Linked DNA regions of Homo sapiens. The protein of the gene in region 3 interacts with the protein of the main gene of each other region in a pairwise test. Each region holds a gene or a part of one and is shown on either strand. Other genes may lie near its edges.

Region 1 (2,166 bases), on a different chromosome or scaffold from region 3:
GGCATGCACCTGTAATCCAGCTACTTGGGAGGCTGAGGCACGAAAATCGCTTGAACCCAGGAGGTTGAGGTTGCAGTGAGCTGAGATTGCACCACTGCATTCTAGTCTGGGCAACAGAGCAAGATTCTGTCTCAAAAAAATAAATAAATAAAAATCATAAAAAATTAAAAATATTCTATGGAAAGTCAGAAGGTTTTTGATTTGCGTAAACCATTACGTTCTATAAATGCAGGATAAAAATGACACATCAGAAGTAACACTTGTTTCAAAAGCAGAAAAAAGTTCCTCTTTTTGAGGATAAGGGTGCTTCCTCTATTTAATACTGGAAAAAATTTCTATTTTACTCTAATGTTGAAAGTTTCTTCTGTTCTCAACTTTGCCAGCTTATGTTCTGGCAAAAATATTAGATGTTAGATTTCTTAAAATTCAGAACTTGCAGCTCCACTTAAAATACATACTTAAACGCTACTCAGAAAATGTGTAGTGTGATTAAACAAATATTTAAAATTAGACACAAAAAATTTATGCAAAATTCAAACTGTATATAATTCACATTTATGCTTCTAAACAAATAGAAGCTCACATCTGTACTACTTTTACAATTTACAAAGTGCTTTTATATACATTTTCTCATTTGCTATTCATGACAGACACGTGAGACAAATATTCTTATTTTACAGATGGAAATAGACCCAGACATTATTCAGTACTTTAACCACTAATAGTGGAACCCTGAGACTTTAGATCTGCAAAGGGGTTTAATAATGCAAATATCACATATATTTCCATTTTTAACACCATATTTAAGTTTTCCATTTTCTTAATAGAAAATGATAAAAAATGTTTTCCCCAATATAATAATACAAATGGAAAATATTATAGACAGTCATATACTAACCCAATGACCAAGATTCACCAGAAGCAAAACCTATTTGGAGGGGTCCTATATTGTTACATATATACAGGGCACCAGCACCAGAACCACATTTAGACTAATACTTTTTATTTCTAATTAAAAGAAAACAATGCAGGGCACTCCTGCAGCCTGCAAGTCTAACTGTACATACGTATGTGTCAGACTATGCAGGTGGCCAAGAAGAATGCAAAGAGATATTTTATCCAAATTTGGAGTTTAGGGCCTGATTGTCCTAGCTTAAGCCCATAGGAACCTGACAACTCGTTCATACCTCTCATCTTTAGTCATAGTTTCTCCTTCTCCATCCCCTTTTCTCCGTAACTACCCTGTGCCATTTAGACTGGAAATTCTAACAGGTAGCTTTTTCTTTCTGAATTATCTTTACTACTGTATAATTTTTATTTTCAGAATATTCCTTATTTCTACATCTCGAAGACATTTCTTTATAGTAGATGGGGGAGCTAGAGCTTACATTCACTGCCAGAAAAGGGTCAGTTCCAGTGTTAATTTCCCAGCAAACACCTGAGAGAAAAACTGAACAGAAAAAGAATAGTGATAGGTGGCAGAGCAGTGACACCTGTGCCCAGAAAGCCGCACTGCAATTGTCTAATATTTGAGGCTCTCCTTTGTTATAACTCTGCCAATTTAAACTAGAAAATTCTGGCTGCTTGAAAATTCAAAGCAGATCAATACATTTAAATCACCGGTTCAAAAAATCACTCTTTTTCATGTTATAATGTTTTTATTGCAATTGAGGATGTTTTCAATAAGTATCTTGAGCTTGAGGCCCTGGCTAAGTATTCCTTTTGTACTAGAAATCAGATTTCTCTGGCACAATTCCATTGCCTGCAATGGTCTTTATCAAAACTACAAAAGCCAGCACACTATTTCAATATGTATTCAGTTGTTCATATCTAAATACCTCATTAGCTATGAAACAAACCAAATATAAATGCTGAATATACAGTACATAGCAACAGATTCTTCACAGAAGAAAACAATGAAAGACTAATTTTCTACAATATGTTACCTGTTCATTAGTTCTTCAATAACATTACTTAGGCTATTTCAAGGATAACAAAATGTATGCGCCACTACCCATGTTTTCGCAACATTTTTTACCTAGGTTCTAAAGGGAATAAATGAGGATGCATATAGTCAGATTTATTTTTATAAACTTCTGATGTTTCTTTTGTTGTGCATCTTACATGAATATATGGAGACAAGAACAGATGTACACTTAAGTCATT
Region 2 (3,500 bases), on a different chromosome or scaffold from region 3:
ACAGTGCAAGACCCTGTCTCAATTGAGGAAAAAAAAAAAAAAAAAGGCCGGGCACGGTGGCTCACGCCTGTAATCCCAGCACTTTGGGAGGCAGAGGCGGGCGGATCACGAGGTCAGGAGATTCAGACCATCCTGGCTAACACAGTGAAACCCCATCTCTACTAGAAATATAAAAAATTCGCCAGGCGTGGTGGCGGGTGGCTGTAGTACCAGCTACTCGGGAGGCTGGCGCAGGAAAATGGCGTGAACCCAGGAGGCGGAGCTTGCAGTGAGCCGAGATCGCACCACTGCACTCCAGCCCGGGTGACAGAGCGAGACTCCGTCTCAAAAAAAAAAAAAAAAAAAAAGAGGCCTCATTTTTTTTTCTCTTTTGTGATATTCTGTGCTTTCCATGATTTCTGCATTGAGCAGTGAGTACTTTTGTAATTAGCTAAAAAAAAAAAAAACCCACCTATTTTTTAAAAGCCCACATATACTAACATTTTGCTGGCTCTGGGGGCCAGCAACAGTGGGGAGGAGGCTCAGTTCAGGGTTAAAAGTTACCTCTCTGCTTCCTGGGATAAGGACTCCACTTTGCGTGAGAGAAGCTGTTCACTCTGCATCAGCTGGTACACCCCAACATCTACGTCATTGACTGGAGAGACCTTGGCACGTGGCCCTCGGGCAAACTTCACAATCTGAGGGACAGGGAGAAATTACTACTGCTGCTACCACAAAGGCTGAGAAATTCCCAACCAGGAGCGCTGGTGGTGGGCATGTGAGAACAGCAGGCCCCCCTTATCCATGGGGGATATGTTCCAGTGAATGGAATCCCCTGTGGAGGTCTGAACCCTCAGAGAATACTGAACCCTATACATATAGCTATGTAAACATTTTTCCTTCTTCACAATTTTTCCTATAGAAGATTCATTCTTACTGTAGATCCTAGCAAACTCAGCAAATGATATTTGGTCTTCCTTATTTGGTCCAGAACTTTTACCTTTTCACTTAAAGGAAGCACTTGACCGCTTCTCTTTGGTAAATCTGGACTGCCAGCACCACTGCTCTTGTGCTTTGGGGCCATTATTAAGTATAATAGGCCAGGCACGGTGGTTTACACCTGTAATCCTAGCACTTTGGGAGGCCGAGGCAGGCAGATCACTTGAGGTCAGGAGTTCAAGACAGCCTGGCTAACTGGTGAAACCCCTTCTCTACTAAAAATACAAAAATTAGCCAGGGGCCGTGGCGCATGCCTGTAATTCCAGCTACTTGGGAGGCTGAGGCAGAAGAATCGCTTGAACCCGGGAGGCGGAGGCTGCAGTGAGCTCAGATTGCGCCATTGCTGGGCGACAGAGCAAGACTCCATCTCAAAAAAAAAAAAAAAAAGTACAATAAGGGTGGCTTGAACACAACCACTGCAATGCTGTGACAGTCAATCTGATCACTGAGACGACTCCTAAGTGACTCAGGCGGGGAGATGCTGGACAAAGCAGGGATGCGCATACAGGCGGGATACTACGAGGTCCCATCACACTACTCAGAACAGTGCACAACTGAAATCTATGGAACTGTTAATGTTTGGAATTTTCCACTTATTATTTTTGGACCGTGGTTGACGGCAGGTTACTGAAACTCTGGAAACCAAAATCTGAGATAAGGGCTCACTACTCTATGTACTTAATCAATCACTGCTGAGTCAGTGAATGAACAGATGAGCCTCCATACCTTCTCCCCGTTCTGCTCGAGGACTGTGACCCTCTTCTCCTTCTGCAGCTGCAGCAACACCAAGTAGAAGGTCCTCTCATCTGGGCAGGAGTTAGCACAGAGGGTGCTGAGCTCTGACAGGGCCACCACGGGGTGGGAGGAGAGGGGCGAGTTCTGATACAGACGATACACCTCCTCAGCCTTTTCCTGTGGGAAAGGCAACATTGGCTGACAGGCCCTGGCCACTGCCATGGGATGCAGGGACCCTGACCCTGAGTTTCAAAACCATGATCACACAAGGCAAGCACCCGGGAATCCCAACCCCATCCTCCCCAAAGTAGCGGCTTTTCAAAAAGGAGGAAGGATCTGTGTTTTTAAGCCTTGGAGGAAAGTTTGGTGACTCCACATGAAATGAGGCACATGAGATGCTGGGAGCCAGCTCTGCGCTGCACGCCCATCGGGGATTTTACACTCCTGCCTCTCACTGGCCTGTGGTTTCCCAAGGGAAGACTGAGGAGGTGAGGTGAGGTAGAACAGCTGTGAACGAGAGCTGAGGCCTGATTTCCAGCCTAGCCTGGGTGACCTTGGGCCAGTCACAGCCTCACTAGTCCTCAGTATCACTCTCTGAAGAGGGTGGATGAAATGACATCTAATTCCCTTCCAATTGTAGTCTCTCCATTTTCCTGCCAATTGGCTATACTGCAAACACAAACATTATTGACTCTGTAAAAAGCCTTAAGGGAAAAGGGCCAGGCGTGGCAGCTCATGCCTGTAATCCCAGCACTCTGGGAGGCTGATCACCTGAGGTCAGGATCACCTGAGGTCAGGAGTTCGAGACCAGCCTGGCCAACATGGCAAAACCCTGTCTTTACTAAAAATACAAAAAAAAAAAATAGCTGGATGTGATGGCGGGCACCTGTAATCCCAGCTACTTGGGAGGTTGAGGCAGGAGAATCACTTGAACCTGGGAGGCGGAGGTTGCAGTGAGCCGAGATCGCGCCACTGCACTCCAGCCTGGGCGACAAGAGCAAAACTCTGTCTCAAACAGAACAAAACAAAACAAAAAACAAAGAAAAGTACATAATAAACAGATGGGATAAGATTAGTGACAAGAGTAAGAAATATAAGTTCCAAGAAATAATGTCACCATTTCGCTCATACATGGAAATTACTACCAGAAACAAGAAAGACTGAGGTGTCCATGGGATGCTATGAAAATATAGGGAAGGACTGCCTGGGGATTCAGGATTTCTTGAAAAAAAAAAAAAGTTGAGCAGAATTCTGAAGAGTGAGCAAGTTCCTAGGTGAAGAGGTGAAACGGGTATCTCGGGAAGAGAGAGGAACATGAGCATAGAAGGGTGGGTCAATGCGGCACGTGTACAAATGTAGAGGGGAAAGGAGAGAGAGGAGAAGCACTCCTATATTATAGAAAGTGTAATATCCTATATTATAGAAAGTGTAATATCTTATGATGATCCTTTATTCTGTAGATGGTGGGTGGTCACTGAAGGAAACTGACATGGCTAGATTAACAGAAAGCTAACTGCCAATTGGGAGACGATGGATTGTAGAGTTAAGATTAGAGGCAAGGAGACCATTTACACAAGAGATTATGTGGGTCTGAACAACAGGCTATTTGAATAATAAACATAGAAAGAGGAGTGGTGGAGACAAACAAAATTCAGAAGATAACACTGGTAACTGGATATAGGGTTGGAAGAAAAAGTCTAGTGGAAAGTCACTATGGATTGAGTGACTGGTGGATGTGATGCTATTAATAGGAAAAAATTCAGGAGGAAAAGCCTAGTTTAAAGTAA
Region 3 (3,500 bases):
AATTAATGTCAGGGTGGTTTTCTTAAAAATCTCTGTCTTAAAACAAAACAGATAATGGAAAAACCCAAAGTAACCATCTCTCTTCACCTACTGGAGCATGTAGGAGGGGAGGAGAGGGGAAAAGATGCAGAAAAAATGCAAATGGCAGGACCCCGGGAAGGGGCCAGGTCCTCTGCAAACCCACCGGCACCAGGCACCATCTGCTTGGGGCTGTGCAGTTTACTCATCTTGGACTGGCCCTGATGCCGCCTGCTAAGCAGAGAGTGGCAGCAACTCCAGGGCAGTCACAGATAAATTTTTTTTTCCTTTCAGAATAGCTGGACACAATTTTCTGAGCTCAACAGAAGGCTGCCCCTGGGCACGAAAGCAGAAATGTGTTTGTGGGCCCAAGTCACTATATTTTAAATGGACTTGGGCTCTGTGGTGTGTGTGGGAGGAGTGGGTGCTTGTAGGACTGTACGGCTCAGTGGAGACACTGGGAATGCCACGATAAGAATGCTCTGAATCTCAAAACACAGCCTCCTCTCCCCCAAAAAAGAAAAGAGGTAATGACCTGGAGTTAGCCTCTTCCTTCCTAACTCATTAGGTACGTTGCATGTAATAGAGTGACTCATCCTTTCCTTGGGCAGAAGCATCACCTGGACATACTAGGTCCTGCTAGGGAAGGAGACATGAACACTAAGCTTCCAAGGACCACAGAAGGAGTCCTTAGTGTGGTTCCCCAGTGCATCCAGGCTGCCTCTGAGCCAGGCAGGTCCCATTTCCCAGTGTGCAGGCCCAAAGCCACCTTGAAAATGATGATTCCCATGCATGAAGAGGGGACCCTTTCCTCCTAACACTCCGGCTCTGTGTGATGTCTCTGTATGGTCTGTGAGTTGGACCCTGAGGACAGGGAGCTGTGGAAAGCTGGGGTAAGGGACGGGAGTGGGGATCTGCAGGGTCTGGCTGTTCTAGAGGCTGGGTTTGGGAGGTGAAACCTAGTGGCAGGAGTCAAGGTTGGTGTCCCTGGCTGGGCCTCGTGGCTTTTTCCTTTGTTGCCAATGGCTTGCTCTCAGTAGGCGGCAGCAGACTGCAGAGGTCTCTCATGTCAATGAGGCTTTCTTCCACAGCTTTTGCAAACTTGCTAGAAGAAGTCTCTTTGCAGCTGTGAAAGCTAGAGATGCAGAAAAGGATGGTCTCTGGCTGGGGGTTGTAGCAGGCACCATACCCATTTGGGACCACAGGACCATAGCAGCAGAACATCTCCGTGGTTGTGGGCACCTGGAGGAGAGGACAGGTCAGGAGCTGCTTGTTCTGGAATGCAGCCCGCCAGCCTCGACTGGGCTTGGCTTCTCTGTTTTCCACCTGGGGGTTTGACTGAATTAACCAAATCAAGTGATTGCTTTAGCATGGATGGACACAGCCAGAGTCATAAAAACAGACCCATCTAACTGCATGATATCAGAGGATGAGGGGCCCCAAGCCCACTCCCTGGTGTGCAATCTGCTCTACTTGTGGAGTTGGAAGCTCCCGGAGTGACCTGGTGCTAGGTCTTGGGCTGAGTCTCCACTTCACCTGGGGGCCATTTGAGGCACGGAGGCAATCAGGTAATTTACTAAATGGTCCCCTGGTGGCACCCCATAGTTAGATGCTTTCCGGAGGGAGGAATTTATGAACTGGAGGAAATCTGGCCCATCCTCTGTGTCGATTTCCCCCAGATCCTTAATTACTGTCAGTATTGCCTGGCTTCTCTGATTTCTCCCTGCAGCCTGGCCATGCACAATTACCCAGAGTTGGGTGTTTCAAAGATTGCCATCAGTTTTACTTATGCACCTAGTATGTTTTGAATCAGAGTGCTGAGATTTTGTAATCCAGATCACAAACCAAGAAAGTATGTTTCTGAAAGCATTCAAGCCATAAATGCTGCTTTCCAGTTGGAAAACAACAAAACTCCCACACCCCAGATTAATTTTATTAGCTGGTCCTTGGGAAAAAAAATAGAAAGGATTCTTGGGCAGGTGCAGGGCCTGGTTTGTTTTAAACCTACAGGTTTCTGGTGCTGTGTGCTGAGGCCTTTGGAAGTGACACTGGCTGTTTTAATGGGGCAGAACAAACCATTAGTCTTGCTAATAGAGTCACCACATTGTCAGATAAATTTGCCGTGCAATAGCCGAAGGCCATAAAGCCATTCCAAAGCACTTTTTGCCCATGGATGATTTCCTGAGAAATTTATGGTGCTGTGTTCTGTCCTCGTTTATTCACGTCTGCATGCTCACTGCCATAATGACAACATCCCATTACTGAGTGGGCTTCTGTCCTCAAACACAGCTTATCAACTCCAGTACTGCCCATCCAGCCTTTCGCAGATGAGGTGGCATTTTAGTAAATTGATGGCTGTGGGGCATTTCCCCTCCTAAACCACGACCTCTCTCTAATGGATTGCATTCTGTCTTTGTGGCAGTGGCTCTCATACAGGACACGCTGAGGCACTGGTTAGATGTTGGGCTGGCCACGAATGTTCTGCTGTTGGTTGCGTGGCCCTTTATAATAATATCTGTGACCTATTTAGAGGGCCCTGTCCATGCCAGGCCCTGGGCTGGGCTTTCTCCCTACATAATTGTATCTGGCCAAGCCAAGACTTCACTGCAGACCTGCTGGGCATCAGAGCCCGTGGAAACCGCGGCAATAGATTGAAAGGTAGTAAGGTGTAATGGTTAGGGCACCAGAATGGGTATGTTCCTGTACTGTCTCCACCTCGGCTAAGTAGGGTCTGCTGATTACTCCCATTTAGGAGATGGGAAACCTTCTTCTTCCTTTTTTCTTTTTTTGAGACAGGGTCTCACTCTGTCACCTGGGCTGGAATGCAGTGGTGCAATCAGGGCTCACTGCAATCTCCACCTCCCCAGCTCAAGCAATCCTCTTATTTCAGCCTCTTTAGTAGCTGGGACTTCAGGCACGCACCACCATGCCCAGCTAATTTTTAAAAATAGGGAGATGAGGTCTCCCCATGTTGCCCAGGCTGGTCTCAAACTCCTGGGCTGGAGCAATCCTCCTGCCTCAGCCTCCCAAGGTGTTGGGATTATAGTTGTAAGCCACCAAGCCTGGTCAGTAAACCATCTTCTAATGAACATTCAGATCATTTTGCTGAAGATCACATAGTTCAGAAAAAGCAGAGGCAGGATTTGCCTGATTCCAGCTAGTGGGCTTGTTGTCACTGCTCTTTAGAAAGCTTACTGACTACACTACTCTTGGGCGATAGCTGCACGGGGCCGTACCTGGCTAGTGGAGAGGACAAACCGGTTGCTCATCAGGTAGGTTTCATCCATGAACATCTCGGGCAGCTCCTTGCACATGGCCCGGGCCAGCTCCCGCAGTGCCAGCAGGTGGTTGTCAATGGCCATCCCTGTTATGGCCTGTGTAGTTGGGGACAAAGAACAGGAGATGAGAAGTGGGCCTCCTGCACCTCCTTGTTCCCTGCTCTGTAGTCTACAGGACTGCTGGTGACTCCAGCAGCCACGGCT
Region 4 (3,500 bases), on a different chromosome or scaffold from region 3:
TTTATAATGAATCTTACAAAAATACAGCCTGTTTTAATAAAAAACAAACAAAAACAGCAAGGTTGAATTATAACACTGTCTCTGATTATCTGCATTCCTAAAATTGAGATGACAGAAGCTACCATGGGACTAAAGTCTTTGAGTAAAATGCACCTTATTTATTTTTCCTCCTTTCTCTACCAGTATTGGCAAAAGAGTGAAATCATTTCTTTGCCCAGTGCTTATCAAAAATAGGAGATTTTCTCTTTCCTTTAAGATGAGTATTTACATACTAGGCTGAACATACTAGGCTGAACCAGAGAACTGAGGCAATTAGGCAGTTTGGGGTAAAAATAACTTAGATTTTAAAATCTTAAAATAACCATCATAAAAATACCATTTGGATAATTGCTTCAATTGCTCCAACATCCAAGTGGCTGTCAGATGAATCAATTCAATTCAAAAGAAATTTATTGAGCATGTACTAGGTGCCTTGCACTGCCCTGATTCAGGTAGTGGGAAGGGTAGTGGAGCTGCCTAAGAGATAGGGAAGCTTCTTCAAAATTAACGAAAGAGGGCTAGGCATGGTGGCTCACACCTGTAATCCCAGCACTTTGGAAGGCTGAGGCGGGTGGATGATTAGAGGTCAGGAGTTTGAGACTAGCCTGGCCAACATGGTGAAACCCCGTCTCTACTAAAAATATAAAATTTAGCTGGGTGTGGTGGTGCTCACCTGTAATTCCAGCTACTCAGGAGGCTGAGGCAGGAGAATCACTTGAACCCAGAAGGCGGAGGTTGCAGTGAGCTGAGATCACACCATTGCACTCCAGCCTGGGCGACAAAGTGAGACTCCATCACAAAACAAACAAACAAAAACCGGAGAGCTTTGCATTTAGCTATCATATTTAAAAGTGGCTGCTAGTGGCATTGAGTGTGGGGGCATGTGGCTAAAGGAAATGTCCTGGGGTCGCAAGGATGGAGAAGAAATAACAAATAAAACATGAAGGTAGAGAGGCAAGGATGAAGATGAACAAAAGTGGTGGAAAACAGACACACATAAGGATAAATGAAACCAGGAGGCTAATAAAAAGGGAGGAAGAAAAGTAGTGGAAATCCACATGCACTTTCTCCTAAACTGAAGCAGAGGCTACAGACGTGGACTTTTCTCTTCAGCTAACACTGAGTTCTAAGTGAGGTTACATTCGAGAATTACCATCTCTCCTTGCATCCGCTATCACCTTAGCTGCAGACTTGCTCATCACATGCACAATGTAGAGAGGACAGTTCACAGCGCTGGCTATGGTGATGGCTCTCAGCGTGGCCTCTGCCTCCACTGCCTCTGGGCGGCACAGCTCGTGGCCCTCAGGGCCTGTTATCCCCAGAGCCAACATCTTCTTTGCTCCCTAAAAAGACAGCAGGAATGTGTATATGTGCAAGGAAGGTTTACTAATGACAGATATCATTATTTTATCATAAATTAAATGCAATGCCAGGCTTTTGATCTGTTAGGTATAGGGGTGTGTGTGTGTCTGTGTGTGTGTGTATATGAACATATTTGTGTAAATATATCTATAACACATATATATATAACATGTATATTTGGTAAAAATAATTTTGATATTCTAATCATATAAGTTAATTTTCCATATGCATATTTTACCATCACTTTTTTTTATTGAAAAGGGGAAAAAGCAAGCACAAGCAACCAAAGCAAAAATGGACAAATGGGATGACATCAAGTTAAAAAGCTTCTGCATAGCAGAGGAAACAATCAACAAAGTGAAGAAACAACCCACAAAATGGGAAAAAATATTTGCAAACTACCCATCTGACAGGGGATTAAGAAGCAGAATATATACAAAACTAAAACAACTCTACAGGAAAAAAAGTTAATAATCTGATTTAAAAATGGGCAAAAGATTTGAATAGAGATTTCTTCAAAGAAGACATACAAATGGCAAACAGGCATATGAAAAGGTGCTCAACATCACTGATCATCAGAGAAATGCACATCAAAACTACACTGAGATATCATCTCACCCCAGTTAAAATGGCTTATATTAAAAAGACAGGCAATAACAATTGCTGGTAAGGATGTGGAGAAAAGGGAACCTATGTACGCTGTTGGTGGGAAGGTAAATTAATAAAACTGCTCTGGAGAATAGTTTGGAAGTTCTTCAAAAGACTAAAAACAGAGCTACCATATGATCCAGCAACCCCACTGCTGGACATATATGCAAAAGAAAGGAAAATCAGTATATCAAAGAGATATACCTGCATTCCCATATTTGTTGCTGCACTGTTCACTACAGCCAAGATCTGGAAGCAACCTAAGTGCCCATCAGCAGATGAATAGATAAAGAAAATGTGTTACATATACACAAGGGAGTACTATTCTGCCATAAAAAAGAATGAGATCCAGTCATTTGCAACAACATGGATGGAACTGGAGGTCATTATGCTAAATGAAATAAGCCAGACACAGAAAGACAAACATTGCATGTTCTCACTTATTTGTGGGATCTAAAAATTAAAACAATTAAACTCATGGAGATACAGAATAGAAGGATGGTTACTAGAGGCTGGGAAGGTTAGTGGGGAGGGATGGCGGTGGGGAGAGGGGGGAAGGTAGGGATGGTTTGTGTGTAAAACAAAAAAAAAGAAAGAATGAATAAGATCTAGTACTTGATAGCACAACAGGGGCACTATAGTCAATAATTGCACCTTTTGGCCGGGCGCGGTGGCTCACGCCTGTAATCCGAGCACTTTGGGAGGCTGAGGTGGGCAGATCACAAGGTCAGGAGATCGAGACCATCCTGGCTAACACGGGGAAACCCTGTCTCTACTAAAAATACAAACAATTAGCCGGGCGTGGTGGCGGGCACCTGTAGTCCCAGCTACTCGGGAGGCTGAGGCAGGAGAATGGTGTGAACCCGGGAGGTGGAGCTGGCAGTGAGCTGAGATCGCACCACTGCACTCCAGCCTAGGCAACAGAGCGGGACTCCATCTCAAAAAATAATAATAATAACAACAAATAAAAAATAATTGCACCATTTAAAATAACTAAAATAATATAATTGGATTGTTTGTAACACAAAGGGTAAATGCTTGAGGGGATGGATACCCAATTTTCCATGATGTGATTCTTATGCATTGCAAGCTTGTATCAAAATATCTCATGCACCTCATAAATATATACACTACTATGTACCCCACAAAAATAAAAAAATTTAAAAAGAAAAGGTGAAAAAGATATGAAGTTATTTCTAATCACATTCTTTGAAAAGCAATATCTATATTTAAGACAATATTGATTCAGACAAACAAAATAAAAATACTGTGGATCCTTGTTGAAGTGACTCACTGTCATACTATGTAATCAGTTTTACTTTTATTACGGAATAATCCTCTTCACTTGCTCCCCAATCCAACCCACTAAATGGTATTGGACCTGTTATCTTTCTTCTTCAAAATGTTATTTCTTCCTTACAAAAAGAGCATGCAGTCCAGACTTAGAGTGG

What was found. Proteins that work in one complex are often made in the same cells at the same time.
Region 1: the proteins of CHAT (region 3) and AGGF1 interact in binary tests that used the Homo sapiens proteins (3 or more experiments, as listed by UniProt).
Region 2: the proteins of CHAT (region 3) and CHMP7 interact in binary tests that used the Homo sapiens proteins (3 or more experiments, as listed by UniProt).
Region 4: the proteins of CHAT (region 3) and DPYS interact in binary tests that used the Homo sapiens proteins (3 or more experiments, as listed by UniProt).

The regions. Positions count from the first base shown.
Region 1 is NC_000005.10:77,063,569-77,065,734, reverse strand, and holds the end of AGGF1 (angiogenic factor with G patch and FHA domains 1), read right to left. Parts: 3' UTR 501-2,166; downstream 1-500. UniProt on the Homo sapiens protein: Promotes angiogenesis and the proliferation of endothelial cells. Able to bind to endothelial cells and promote cell proliferation, suggesting that it may act in an autocrine fashion.
Region 2 is NC_000008.11:23,253,637-23,257,136, reverse strand, and holds part of CHMP7 (charged multivesicular body protein 7), read right to left. Parts: intron 1,891-3,500; coding exon 1,705-1,890; intron 678-1,704; coding exon 544-677; intron 1-543. UniProt on the Homo sapiens protein: ESCRT-III-like protein required to recruit the ESCRT-III complex to the nuclear envelope (NE) during late anaphase. Together with SPAST, the ESCRT-III complex promotes NE sealing and mitotic spindle disassembly during late anaphase.
Region 3 is NC_000010.11:49,662,537-49,666,036, reverse strand, and holds part of CHAT (choline O-acetyltransferase), read right to left. Parts: intron 3,393-3,500; coding exon 3,255-3,392; intron 1,261-3,254; coding exon 991-1,260; 3' UTR 1-990. UniProt on the Homo sapiens protein: Catalyzes the reversible synthesis of acetylcholine (ACh) from acetyl CoA and choline at cholinergic synapses.
Region 4 is NC_000008.11:104,443,056-104,446,555, forward strand, and holds part of DPYS (dihydropyrimidinase), read right to left. Parts: intron 1,383-3,500; coding exon 1,193-1,382; intron 1-1,192. UniProt on the Homo sapiens protein: Catalyzes the second step of the reductive pyrimidine degradation, the reversible hydrolytic ring opening of dihydropyrimidines. Can catalyze the ring opening of 5,6-dihydrouracil to N-carbamyl-alanine and of 5,6-dihydrothymine to N-carbamyl-amino isobutyrate.